Linked DNA regions of Homo sapiens. The protein of the gene in region 1 purifies or fractionates together with the protein of each later gene. This does not show direct contact. Each region holds a gene or a part of one and is shown in the gene's direction. Other genes may lie near its edges.

Evidence for each region.
Region 2: the proteins of MINDY4 (region 1) and KRT2 purify together in Homo sapiens (affinity purification with mass spectrometry, with the first as the bait; one large-scale study listed by BioGRID). This does not show direct contact.

The regions. Positions count from the first base shown.
Region 1 is NC_000007.14:30,774,140-30,778,488, forward strand, and holds part of MINDY4 (probable ubiquitin carboxyl-terminal hydrolase MINDY-4), read left to right. Parts: intron 1-4,292; coding exon 4,293-4,349. UniProt on the Homo sapiens protein: Probable hydrolase that can remove 'Lys-48'-linked conjugated ubiquitin from proteins.
Region 2 is NC_000012.12:52,646,315-52,649,740, reverse strand, and holds part of KRT2 (keratin, type II cytoskeletal 2 epidermal), read left to right. Parts: intron 1-638; coding exon 639-734; intron 735-1,403; coding exon 1,404-1,568; intron 1,569-1,885; coding exon 1,886-2,011; intron 2,012-2,780; coding exon 2,781-3,001; intron 3,002-3,426.

The DNA.
Region 1 (4,349 bases):
CCTCTGAGACCCTGGATGACCATTTCATACCTTCTCTCTCTTCAAACCCTGAAGCTCCTTCCCCATCTAATTTCACTGAGAAAACAGAAGTCTTGAGAGAAGTCCAGCAGGCTCCCACTACCACACTTACTCACCTTCCTGGGCTGCACCATTCACTCTGCTCTCTTTAGTGTTCTTGTGGATGAATTCTCCATACCCCTGGTTAGGCCCACCCCTCCATGTGTGCATGCCCTCTCTTGTGTGCTCAGGGATGTCGCTGTCTCCTGCACCATGCATTTCCCTCCTCTACTAGGTTACTCCTATCAGCACATGTTGTGCTCCTGCAGAATCCCATCTTGACCCCCAAACCCTAGCTACTGGTTTATTATTTCCTCCCTTTCTATAGAAACCCCATAAAGGACCTGTGTCTACTTTCATTTTAATTCTTTTCTCTGCTTTCTCGAACCCATTTTAATCAGACTTTTGTCCCCATCATTCCATGGAAATAGCTCTTCTTAGGGCCATTATTAACCTGGAATTTTTAGTCCTCGCCCTTCTTGATCTAATGATTATGTTTGTCACAGTTGATTGTGTCCTTCTGCTTGTCTTCTAGGAGACTGTCCCTCTTAGCTTTCCTCCTACTCCTCTGGGTGCTCCCTTCAGGGTCTTCGCTGGTCCCCCTAGTTTCTCTGTCCTGTGCACTCTGGTGGGCTCAAGGACTTAGTTTATGGCTCTCTTCTCTTCTTCTTTCCGTTCACTCTCAAGACATCTCAGCCAGTCTTGTGGATTCCCATACCATCTATATGCTGACAATTCCCAAATGTCTATCTCTAGCTGAGACCTCTCCTTGAACTCTTGAATTCTTACAACTGCCTATTCTACATATCTACTGGGATGTCTAACAAGCATCTCAACATGTCTCTGATAGTGTTTCTGCTCACACTTCAGACACCAAATGTATGGGGATTTTTCCTCCATACAAACTAAATCTCCAACTCTCCAGACACCAATTGGGTGTCGTACAATTCAAATCAGTCCTGACACTACCAAGAGTTAGTGCAGACCCTGCAGGTTAAGTCACGCTCATGACTGCCCCCACTTCAGATGCTAGTCAGAAGTCCCAAGTTGCCACCTGAACTTCTGACCAACTAGCTATAAATTGAGGGTTCCCACAACCCCCTCCACAGTTTTAATAATGTGCTAGAATGGCTCACAGAACTCGGAGAAACACTTTACTTACATTTACCAGTTTACTATAAAGGACACAATTCAGGAACAGCCAGATGGAAGAGATGCATAGGGCAAGGTGTGGGTGGAGGGTCATGGAACTTCTGTGCCGTCTTCAGCATGCTGCCCTCCCAGCACCAACCTGGGAACTGCCTGAACCCCATCATTCAGGAGATTTTGTGTCAATTCTGCTATATAGGAATGTTTGATTAAATCATTGACCATTGGTGGTTAGCTCAATCTATAGCTTCTCTTCCCTCTCTGGGAGATTGGGAGGTAGGGCTGAAAGTTCCAGCCCTCTAATCAAGGTTTGCTCTTTCTGGTGACCAGCCCCCATCCTGAAGCTATCTAGGGGTCCCCATCCACTAGTCATCACATTAGCATACAGAAGACATTCTTATCACCTTGGAGATTCCAAGGATTTTAGAATCTATGTGCCAGGAACCTGGGACACAGAACAAATATATATTTATCATAATGTCCAAAACTCAATTTCTGATTTCCTGTTCCTCCTACAACTGTGCCCATTGGAATAAATGGCATCTCTGTCCTTCTAGTTGCCTGGGCCCAAAACTTTGGAATTATTCTTGGCTTGTTCCTTTCTTGTGCACCTCATATCCAGTCCATCAGCAAATCTGTTGGCTTTATCATCAGAGCACATACAGAATGTAGCCACTTCTTACCACTTCTGTTGCAAACACCTTGCTCCAAGCCACCCCTTTGTTTCATGTGATTTGTGAATTGTTCAATAGCCTCCTAAATGGTTTCTCCTTAATCTCCTGCCTCCTACAGTTTATTTTCAACCTAGCAGCCAAGTGATCTTTCAAAAATATGTCAGTTCAAAATAGTAGCCTTCCCATTTCATAAAAGCCCACAAGACCTTTCCTTATGAGTCTCTGGGTGACTTCTGACTTCCTTACCTCCTTTCCCCTGCCATGCAGCTCTAGATGCACTGGCCTTTTGCAACTGGCTCAGGGCCTTTGCACTTGCTGTTCCTTGCCTGGAACACTTTTCTCCCAAGTGTCTGTGTGGCCTGCTCTTTTGATTCCCTCATCAATCAATGATGCCTTTCCTGACCACCTTTGATAAAGTAGCAGCGCATCCCCACACCCACCCTAGCCCTCTCTGTCTCCTTATCCTACTTTGTATGTTTTTTCCCCATATCATACTATACTTGTTGTCTCTCCCCCTATAGAGTGCAAGCTCCCTGAGGACTGGGACTTTCATCTGTTCACTGCTCTGCCTCTAGCAACTGGACTTACGGACTAGTGGTCTGTTCCCTTCGTTTCACAGATAGGGAAACTGGGACAGGAGTGAGCATGTGGATGATGCTGAACAAATAGCTGGCCATCTAAAACAGTGGCCTTCATCCTTGTCTTCCCTCTCCCTGCTTTGTCTCCCTCGTAGTGCATATTAGCAGCTGCCACACTATACATTTATGGTCTGCTTTCCCAACAGAACATCAGCTCTTATTCCTTCTGTCTCTCCTGCATCTAGAACAGAGCCTGGCACATAGGAGGTGCATGACAGGTGTTTGTTGGGCGAATGAAGTTTGAATGGGCTGGATGGGACTGAGGACTGGCTGACTCCCAAGGGCACCCTTGTCCTCTACCCCAATGGTATTTCTTTTCTTTTCTTTCCTTTTCTTCTTTCTTTCTTTTTCTTTTTCTTTTTTTTTTTTAGAGATAGGGTCTCACTCTTTCATCCAGGATGGAGTGCAGTGGTGTAATCATAGCTCACTGTGGCCTTGAAGTCATGAGCTCAAAGATTCCTCCTGCCTCGGCCTCTCAAAGTTCAGGGACTGCAGGCCTATGGCACCATGCCCAGGCCCCCGGTGGTTTTCAAATGCTGGTGTGCATCACGCTCTAGAGCCAGGGTAGGGGTGGGGTTTGTTAAATGTACAGGGCTTGCTGATTTGAACTGTTGACAGACATAAAGAATTATCCATCAGAGAGAGCCTCGTTATAGCATGTTCCACATCACTTTGACTGGAGGGAAAGCCATGGTTAAGCCCAGATGAAATGCGGGTGGTTGGTTTTGAACCCCACCTCTCCTTCAAATGGACTCTTCCCGATGCACCTAATCCACCTTTTTTCTGACCCATATATCCATTTCTTTCCATTTCCCTTCCCTACGGCCTCCTCTTTCCTCTGTTTGTTTCAAGATTGTGTTCTTTTAGTTTCCCAAATTGACCTTCTTAGCTAAATTCATGGTGGGCATGGGTTTTGTCATGTTTCCCCAGCAGCTAGAGCCTCTGTAAAATTCTGAACACAAAGGCTCTGGGAGAGGCTGAAGCCTGTGTAGCACTGGGGGTCTGGAATCCATTAAGAACAAGGAACACCCCTAACACCAGGCTGAGCTGTTGGTGAGGCATGTTCTCAGCCTCCAGCCATTTGACAATCACCATGGCCCAGTGAGGTGGGCAGAGAGCAACTGCTGTGGTTGTTTTTCAAATAGAGAAGCCAGGCACTTGCGAACAGGACCCTCACTTCGCCAACCCCAGATTTTCCATTGCTAGAGCATGTCTCAGCTGGGCCTTGAACCTTGGTCTTCTGGCAGTTCAGGGTGGGATGATGGAAAGTGGCTTTGCTCATGACTTAGCATTTACCAAGAGCTTCTCATGGGCCTGGGTCCCAGAGTCATGGACTCACAGTTTGGGATGGTTACAGCCCCCACCTGTGATGTGATTCCATTGTGTTACATTGGGCAAGTCAACCCCATCTCCTGGTTTCCCCATCTGAGAGTGAAGGGAATGAATATTAGCCTTTTGTTTACATTTTTTCTTTTGTTTAATTTTAAAGCTTCATATACTATGGTTCCAAATGTAGGGCCAAACCCAGGACTCCTGTGCGCGAGTCCTGAACTCACTCCTTATCTGCGAAATGGCCTGAAAACTTCAGCCTTCACTTAGCCCATGGGGCTGTTGTAAGAATCAGAATAATATTAATTATTGCAAAGGTGATGTCAAGTGTAAAGGTTATATGAGAATTATCTTGGTGAACATCAGGAATCGTTTGCTTGTGCTTTATGAGAACAGCGGGTTTTGATTTAAGATGGTAAACAGCGATTCAGCTTTCTTCCCTCAGGGCTTAAAGAAGACATGTGTGACCATGGACCAGGAACGCCCACGCTCTGACCTCAGC
Region 2 (3,426 bases), on another chromosome or scaffold:
CTGGATACAGTTTTCAAAGCTGTTCTGCATTTTTGGTAGAGTGCTTCCCAGTAGTAACCCACTTAAAGCCTCTACTGAATCATGATAAATGCAAACACAAAAATCTCTTTGTATTCTCCTTCTAAAGAGCTGAGGAAGGAATGGGACTTCCCTTAGAATGCCTGCTTAAAGTTGCTGTTGGTTGTGCTGACAAAGGTTTGAGGTTGTAGGCCAAAAGCAAGGGTTCTCCTGCTGGGTCCTGCAGGGCCTTTGGTGTATATTCTGGGGAAATTTCGGAGAGGTGAGATGGACAGACGGGATGAGAGAGCTGAGGACTGTGGAAACCCACAAAGAACATCGTATCCTGTTGTAGAAACACACAGTGTCTCAAGCAGGAGAGAGGGGCTGGTTGGCAAAGCTTGGTCATCTCGAGGCTCTGATGGTCCTGAGGGCTGTGAGCCATGGACGTAGGCATGAAGTCCCTGGCAGAGGTGTATGGTAAACTGCACGACAAAAGAAGTCCCATGGGGACAGGGATCAGGTTGGGGAGCCTGGGATTTTAGAGAGGAGCCAGCAGGGACTGAGTAGAGGGGAGTGGCAGAGAGAGGAAGAGGCCTGTACAGGGAACCATACACCAGAGGCCTCAACCTTTCTTGCAGGACGTGGACAATGCCTACATGATAAAGGTGGAGTTGCAGTCCAAGGTGGACCTGCTGAACCAGGAAATTGAGTTTCTGAAAGTTCTCTATGATGCGGTAAGGAGGCTGCTCCGGGACAGTCCCTTACTTCCCACCCTTCTCACCAAATGAAAGTCCTTTCTGCTTGGTGAAAAAGTGGCAGAAGTGGGGTTTATGGACCAGCTGACTTCAATCTGCCATCATTCCAGGCCACTGGGGGGGCTTTCATAGCATAGGTCTTGTGGGTGAGGAATTTTCTCCTCCGATGTTATGGGAATAAGGTTCAGGAAACACCAGGACAGCTTCCCCTCCCTCCATTCCCCAGATGTCCATTTCCCCTGGGGAAGAGACAAGCCCTGTGCCCATTCCTGTGCCTACTGTACTTCAGAGGTCAAAATGCATTTGTCTCCTATCCCCCTCCCCAACCCAAGGGTGCACAGATGATTTCTGAAACAGGAAGTCCATTTAAGGTATTTGCCATGGACAAGCTTCTGTCTGGGGGCACTTACCATAACTGGCTTAAGTGCTGAATGTTAACTAGGAGGCTCAGAAATACAGGTGCCTCTCACTACAATTCTCAGGACAACCTTGGGAGAGGCCCAGGAGTAGACGGTTACATGATTTTCATCCCACCTAGTGTATGCTTAGTCTGAGGGTCTGCGTTTCCCTTATGCTGGGAGACAGAGGCCTCCTGTCTGCCTGTAGCTATGGCAGGATGTCATGACCAGACCTTCCTGTGTGTTGTAGGAGATATCCCAGATACATCAGAGTGTCACTGACACCAACGTCATCCTCTCCATGGACAACAGCCGCAACCTGGACTTGGATAGCATCATCGCCGAGGTCAAGGCCCAGTATGAGGAGATCGCCCAGAGGAGCAAGGAAGAAGCGGAGGCCCTGTACCACAGCAAGGCAAGTAGAGGGAATGTAGGAAGAGCCACAGCTCCCTGCCATGAGCTGGGTTGCACCCCCAGCTGGAAAGTGTACAGTAAGGTTATTGGTTTTTTGTTTAATGGTAGTTGGGCACCATTCCCAAGAAAGGATGTTGAGAATGGCACCAAGTCCTTTTGGGCATGTGAGACAGTCCCTACCTCTCATGAATGCAGCCATGACATTTAGCTGGGTTGACCCTCCCTGGACCAGTAACCAGCTCTCCTTCACTCCAGTCAGTCTGGAATGTGAGCCAGGCTGGAACTTCCTTGCAAACTGTCCTCTTCTCCCCATATCAGTATGAGGAGCTCCAGGTGACTGTCGGGAGACATGGAGACAGCCTGAAAGAGATCAAGATAGAGATCAGCGAGCTGAACCGCGTGATCCAGAGGCTGCAGGGGGAGATCGCACATGTGAAGAAGCAGGTGAGGCCCAGCCCTGTCCAGCGAGGGGCGGGAGGTTGTCTCTGGGTGTGCGTGAGAGTGTGGTTGTGTGTGAGTGTGCATGTGAGAGATGAGAGACACTGAGATATTGCACTCTAGCATGTATCGATCCCAAATTCCCCAGCTTAACATAATTTATGGCTTATTATAACAATTCTTAGAGTGCTCTAATAGACATTCCAAAGTAAGGATTATCGAAGGGAAAGAATTGTGCTCACTTGTTTATATGAGGAAAAGGGAGTCATAACAAATAGAGCAAACGTTAGTTTGATTGATTTGCTGCAGATTGCCGATGGAGCTTCCCGTTTGTGCTCAGCACAGGCCCTGAGCACCAGCCGACTGGTTTCATAGAGGGGCAGTGAGTATTGAGGGCAGCTGGCCTGGGGCTGGACGTTAGCTTTGGAATAGAAAAGGTAGAGGCAGAGAGTGGATTCCATCAGCAGCAGAAGCTTTGCCAAGCAGACCATTTCAAATGTTTTCATTTCCATCTGTAAAATGGGATCATGATTCAGGCCCTGTGATGTGAGGATCAAAGGGCACTATGGGGAAAGCCAAAGGGTGTCATCAACGGTGACATGGGAAGAAGATGTGCCAGAGACAGCGGCAAGTCTTAGCACAGTTGTTTGCGACTAAACTCCAGAGGGGACCTAACACTCCCAGGGCCAGTGGTTCTGGCTTCCTGCACTTCGAACACCTCTGCTCTCTGTCCGCCTCCGTCAGGCAGAATCCATTCTCTGTCCTTCTGTCATAGTGTAAGAATGTGCAAGATGCCATCGCAGATGCCGAGCAGCGTGGGGAGCATGCCCTCAAGGATGCCAGGAACAAGTTGAATGACCTGGAGGAGGCCCTGCAGCAGGCCAAGGAGGACTTGGCGCGGCTGCTGCGTGACTACCAGGAGCTGATGAACGTGAAGCTGGCCCTAGATGTGGAGATCGCCACCTACCGCAAACTGCTGGAGGGCGAGGAGTGCAGGTGAGGGCACTGGGAAGGGAGAAGGGGACCCTGGCCCTTCCTCTCATCTCTCCCAGAGCCAGGGCTGGAGGCAAAGACAGGGAAAGCAGAGAATGGGGCAGGCCCTCCTGACAACTGAGAACTGACATTCTCTGTGTTCCCCAAGCAGAAACTCAGGACATAAAGCATGATTGGAGAGTTACACATTTATCAACATGAAATGATGCATAAGGCACATTAAATTAAACTAAGCAGTAAGTTAAACATCCTGGTCTTTTCTGAAAGAGAAAACAAAATCATGGGAAAACAGGTTAGTCCTAGACAGTCTGAAACTTTGGTCTCTAGGTCCATAGGGTGAGTGGCTTCTGTGCCCTCCACCGGGTGACCCAGAATGGGGGAGATGATGTCTCGGAATGTGCTGACTGGTGGGGACGTGCTGACCGGAG